2 separate regions of the Homo sapiens genome follow, and region 2 is linked to region 1. Evidence: fine-mapped expression QTL. A gene starts in region 1. The other region holds a variant in brackets. All regions are shown on one strand. Distances are from middle to middle. Region 1 holds the start of TACR1-AS1 (TACR1 antisense RNA 1). Region 2 overlaps TACR1 (tachykinin receptor 1).

Region 1 (2,921 bases):
TATATCCTAAACCATCTTGATTCCTTTTTGATGGTCTCCAATAACCTTCTAATAACTCCAGCTATCTGTTCTGTCTACATTATTCTAAGTGTTTCTATGTCTCTTGACATACATTTGACCACTCTCCTTTTTAAAACTCTCTCTCTTGTTATGTGGATATGATAAAATGTAAATGTAGCTTCACAAGAAATATAATAATGGAGGGTAATTGGTGATTTTCCAAGGCAGGAGGGTGGTTGTCCTGACCTTGTTTGTCTGTATCTGAGCTATGTGACCCTTAGAACAGGAGATGGTGGCCTCTCTGGATGGAATAGAGATTTTACAGGTGAGCTGGACCAGAAGAGCTGGTGATACTCAGGTGGGGGTTGAATGGGGCAGTTGTGAGGCACTTGTGGACATTAGAGAGGTAGAGATAGAGAGAGGAGAGAAAGGGGGAAGAAGGGCATGTAAGCAAAGGGAGGGGGAGACAGGAAAAAGAGGAGAGGAGAAGAGAGGCAGAAAGATGAGCCAAGGTTGCTCACGGCAAGAGAGGAAATTAAATCCAGATGATGCTAAGTGAGCTTGAGGCTCATTAAGCCATACCAGGCAAGAAGACAGTTAGAATTGTCCTTGAGCTGAAGAGGAGAACTACGTTAGGAGCTGCAATCCCAAGAATGGAGAGAGGGTCCTGGAAGGCTTGAGGATGGGGCAAAGATGCTGGGGCTTGGGAACAGTCCCTCAACGTTTTGGGGTTTTTAGATTTTTTTGTTTGTTTTTTAAATGGAGGTCAAAGTGTAACAGCCTTCCAAAATAAACTAAGTTGTCCTTATGCAGCCCTTTCATTTGGTTTGAAAAGGTGAGGTCAGAGATGTTCATGCTCAGTGTGAATTTGGAGACGCAAAGGAGAGAGGCAGAGCACAGACTCATCTGGAGGAGAAAGGCAGCTTCCTGCCTCACTGCCCAGGACTGAGGTAGGGAGCAGGCCAAATGCGAACTTGGAAGCCAGTGGCAGAGGATGGGCCGAAAGGAGGGATAAGGGAGTACCAGGAGCTAAGCAGTGCTGTGGAGAAGGTCTTTTAGGGGACTCTTCCAACAGCAGCAGGGATGCAGGGTAGATAGACAGGGAGAGACCTGGGGCCAGAAAACCCAGAGAAGACAAGACAGTTAGGAGACTCCAGCCACAGTCCAGGCAACATGCACGAGGGCCTAACTTACAGTGGGGATGAAAGGGAATGATAGCTGGGAAACCCTCTTCAGAGGGAATCACCATGGCTCATTGGCTGACAGGTTGTAATTTCTCACTCACCTGTGCTGGGTTAGTGCTGAATCTCCACTGGGTTTCTTCAGAGAGTGTGTGTGTGTGTGTGTGTGTGTGTGTGTGTGTGTGTGGTGGGTTAGTGCTGAATCTCCACTGGGTTTCTTCAGAGTGTGTGTGTGTGTGTGTGTGTGTGTGTGTGTGTGTGTGTGCGTGCGCGCTCTTGGCTGATTATCTCCCTGGGCCAAACTTCCAATTATAAATCTCCCGGAGTGAGTGGCTTCAGCAAAGCAGTCCTTCCTTGTGACATGCTCAGTCTGGAGGTTCTGACTACTCCCCCATGAGCTCTGTAGGGGAGCTGTTTGTTGTTTGGGATTTTCAGAAACAGGATTTTCCTGCTTGGGCAGCAACAGCATGACCCTGAGTGTTCAGATCCCGAGGGAGCCAGGAGCCGGGAGGAAGGCAGCAGCAGGCTCAGCTTCCTGTAGGCCAAGCATTGCTTTGGGCAGTGAGGGGGGCATCCAAGTGAACTTTAGTTGTGCACAGCAAGCCCCACACCCCCGCCCTTCAATTAATCAGTGAGCCAGCAAGCTGGGCCTTTACTGAACTCCTATAGTGAGGCCAGTTTCCTTATCAAAAGTGAATGGCCTCATGGAGAGACCTCAGTCCCACACCCTGAATAAAGCTCAATAGTGCTGCCCACCATCAGTGATTCCAGGAAAAAAAATTTAATGAATCTGATTAGAATACTTAGAGTACACTGATGACCTGGAATTAGCTTGAATAGGAAGAGAGGATACGTGAGGAATTAAATCCTTGCACACAGGAGTTAAAACCACCTCCTCCCTTTTGCATCCCTGGTTGGTCCACCTGGATCCTCTGTCTTCACAACTTAAAAGGGTTAGCAGCCACATGGAAGGAAACAGGGAATGTGCCAGGTGAATTTCAGAAGTTTTGCCATTGCTTCTCTCCAAGTTGTACACAATTTCAATAATACTCTAAGAATTAAGAGATGTATTTTAATGGGTTTTTTTCCTGATCCTATAAACAAATCTTAGGTCATCAGATCTGGAAGAGACATCAGACCTTATGCTCTGCTTCCCTTGTAAAACTGAACGCCTTTAACAGCACAGCTCAGAGTGCAGTCAGTCAATATTGACATTTCACAAGAGAGGTCAATAATTCTCAGCAAGTGAGTAGCTGGTTCTAGCTCAGTCACCCACTTAGGTGTCAGGACTATCTTCTGAGAAGCAGTCTTTCATAACATCCCACTGAGGCTTGGATGCCTTCAGAAAAGATTTCTGACAATTCCTGTGCTTTCTTGCCATAGCATCTTGTTAGACTCAGTCAAGGTGATTGTGTATTGTTCCTACCCTGCCCTCTGCTGAGCTTTTGCCTAAAAGAACTCTTATAAGAAGTCTTAGGCTGGTGCAGTGGCTCACGCCTGTAATCCCAGCAATTTGGGAGGCCAAGGTGGGCAGATCACAAAGTCAGGAGTTCAAGACTAGCCTGGCCAATATAGTGAAACCCCATCTCTACTAAAAAATACAAAAATTAGCCAGGCGTGGTGGTGCACGCCTGTAGTCCCACTACTCGGGAAACTGAAACAGGAGAATCACTGGAACCCAGGAGGCAGAGGTTGCAGTGAGCCGAGATTGCGCTACTGCACTCCAGCCTGGTGACAGAA
Region 2 (2,921 bases), 32 kb before region 1:
AACTGAGATACTCTTCTAAATAGTCCCAGGGAGCCAAGGGGAAATTTCAAATGCCTTTAGAATTCGTGATGGGAACCAAAATGAATGCAGCCCTGAGCTTGAAATACGAGTTAGCTCAACAACTTAGCTGGGCTCTTCAAACATGAGCTAGGAAGATAAAAGAGAAAACTTCATTGGAATTTTCATGATTTAACAAATTTCATTTTTAAAATTTGTTCCTGAAGTTCTTTTCTCTTCCCAGCTGGAATGATGAGGGGTCTGGAAGTTAATGTGTTAAAGATTCAGCTAGATTACCTGCCAAATCAAAGCCATCATAGGTTTTCAATGATCCAATTAGGACACTGTGATCCTAAGACTTTAGGCAGAATGCAAAGAAGGCGCAGATACTATTTCCCTCGTTTTTGTTGGTTTCCCTCCAATAATGTTATAACCAGCTACAGTCTGCATTGAGGCACTCCCCAATCCTGCTTCACAAATGCATGAACCCAAATTACTGCTCCATTCCCTTCACAGCCAATCCAATTTAGTAAGTTGAGTTGAACCAAGAGAAGAGCAGCTAATTAAAATCACACTACGGTACAAACAATATGGACGTCTTTCTACCTCCAAGGTCCCATTTGTATCTTAAAATGGGAATGTGTTCATTCTAGTTACCTACTCCTTGAACAGGAAAGATTGTAGAGAATTAAAACAAACTTAGACCTCGGAACTGTGCCAATGTGGAATGTAAGAGGTGCCGGAGTTTAGGTAATACAGAAGTATCCAGAGTTTGGCTTTCAAAAAATAGTCCCAGGTATACCACCAAGGGGTCTGCTGGAGGATACTGTGGTGGGGATCTGTCACCAGGAGCTGTCAAACTGCTGTTGAAAGATCTTTTCCTGTCACAGGCAGAATTATCTCTGCCCTGAGGTGCTACTGCACTCTGCATTTGTTTGCGTATTTGCTTCTGTCTTCTTCAGACTTCTTATAAGTCACTAATTGTTTTGATAAATATGTAATATCTTTACAACCTGGAAGGATGTTAAGAAGGGACTGTGGAATATATTCTCAGCCAGTCCAGTGGGTTGGGGTTAAGGGCAGCAGGGCAGTGCTGCTGAGATGGCCAAAGCAGATTCTTCACCTCTCCTGCATCTTCATCAGTGAATTTGTGCTGTTTACAAATCCTGGGGCGAGGGCCAGTTTTCCAAGAGCTGGGCTTTCTGCCAGGGTCTGTCTGGACCCACATGTCATCTGGAAGTTTTCATCCTTTTTTCTTTGTCTGCATCTTTCCTTTCTTTTTTTCTCTGTACACCTGGATAAAAATTCCTTGCTTCATCTCCTCCCAATACTTCCTCAGCATTTTGAAAATAGCACAGCTTCAATAAATGTCAATGACTGAAAAATGGAGATGAAACAGATG[A/G]AAACAAAAACTGCTGTATATAAAACAGTTGATGAGTACAGCAATAGAAAAAAATGCAAATTACTAACATTCTGATTAAGCAGATGAGTCTGGAAGGATCCTGAAAGGATTCTTGAGGCTGTTCATTTAGGTAAGAACTTAAGCCACCTTTTTTTTTTTTAAGAAAAATAACTTACTATTGAATATTACCTGCACAACTCCAATGTTTTTCTGATCACATTTTAGTTTAAATTTAGTTTAATATAGTTAAATTATAAATAAATCGTAAAATATTACACACTTATTAAAGAGAATTAGCAACTTACAAAAAAATAGTTTGAAGAAAAATAAATGTAAAATCAACGCTCATCTCACTGCCTAAGCACCACTATTGTCAATTCTTAGGAATTATTTCATGCCAAGACTTTCTTTCTTTTTTTTTTTTTTTTTTTTTGAGACAGAGTCTTGCTGTGTTGCCCAGGGTGGAGTAAAATGGCACGATCTCAGCTCACTGCAACTTCCGCCTCCCAGGTTCAAGCATTTCTCCTGCCTCAGCCTCCCGAGTAGCTGGGATTACAGGCGCGAGCCACCAAACCCAGCTAATTTTTGTATTTTTAGTAGAGACGGAGTTTCACCATGTTAGCCAGGATGATGTTGATCTCTTGACCTCGTGATCCGCCCGCCTCAGCCTCCCAAAGTGCTGGGATTACAGGCGTGAGCCACAGTGCCTGGCCCAAGACTTTCTTTCTATGCATAGAATCTTCATAATTATAGTCCTATAGCATATACAATTTTATTTTTCTTTTACATAATAAAGATATATTTTATGTAATAAACTTTATTCTATAAGATCATGCCAAGTGGTTACAAAGTATCGTAATTTAAATAATCCCTCATGCTTAAACCCTGGGGGGTGTTTTGAGATTTTGCTACAACATATAATTTGTCATCAATGTGTTTTAGCAAAACTAGCGCACATGGATGATTATTAGGATAAATTCTTAGAAGAAAAGTTGTTTGTTCAGAGTGTTAGCCATCTTAAGCCTTTTGCTTCATTCTGTTAAGCCACTCTTCAGAAAGCTTTAGTAATTTGCAGTGTGAAACAGAATATATAGATCCAACATATTGGAGTGTTCCTTTATCCATATTCCTAACAATTTTACAAAAATCTTTTCCAATTTAAAAGATTAAAATGTTAGTTATGTTTGCACTTCTTACTAGTGAGTATATTTTAATATATTTGTTATTCCTTTGTATTTGTGAATTAATAGAGCTTTAAATTTAAATCTTAATTTTTAAATTCCATATTGAATTGCAGAAACTGTAGGTTGAGGCTATATTAAAGGCTATAACCTTTTGATGGTCATGTGATATAAAAATTTTTTATATTTCAGGTTAAAATGTTCATTTCTTTTTCAGTGATTATTTTATATTATTTTATGTTGTTATATCTATCTGCCTTTTCTTTTGTGCTTTCTCTTTGTTATTATGCATAAAAAGACCTTCCTCAACTCAAAAGTAGGCAAATATGCATAAATAATTT

Evidence for each region.
Region 2: its variant is fine-mapped to the expression of TACR1-AS1 in lung (TOPMed, PIP above 0.99).

The regions. Positions count from the first base shown.
Region 1 is chr2:75,152,936-75,155,856 of GRCh38, reverse strand. TACR1-AS1 (TACR1 antisense RNA 1) reads right to left here and starts at 1,539. Exons shown (of 4, transcript NR_168010.1): 1 at 1,286-1,539. All of the region lies in intron 1 of TACR1 (tachykinin receptor 1), which reads left to right.
Region 2 is chr2:75,185,283-75,188,203 of GRCh38, reverse strand. The region is part of intron 1 of TACR1 (tachykinin receptor 1); the gene reads left to right. The region is part of intron 2 of TACR1-AS1 (TACR1 antisense RNA 1); the gene reads right to left. Among named protein-coding and RNA genes, the nearest start is that of TACR1, 13 kb to the left of the region's middle. The variant A/G (reference allele first, on the strand shown) is at 1,400.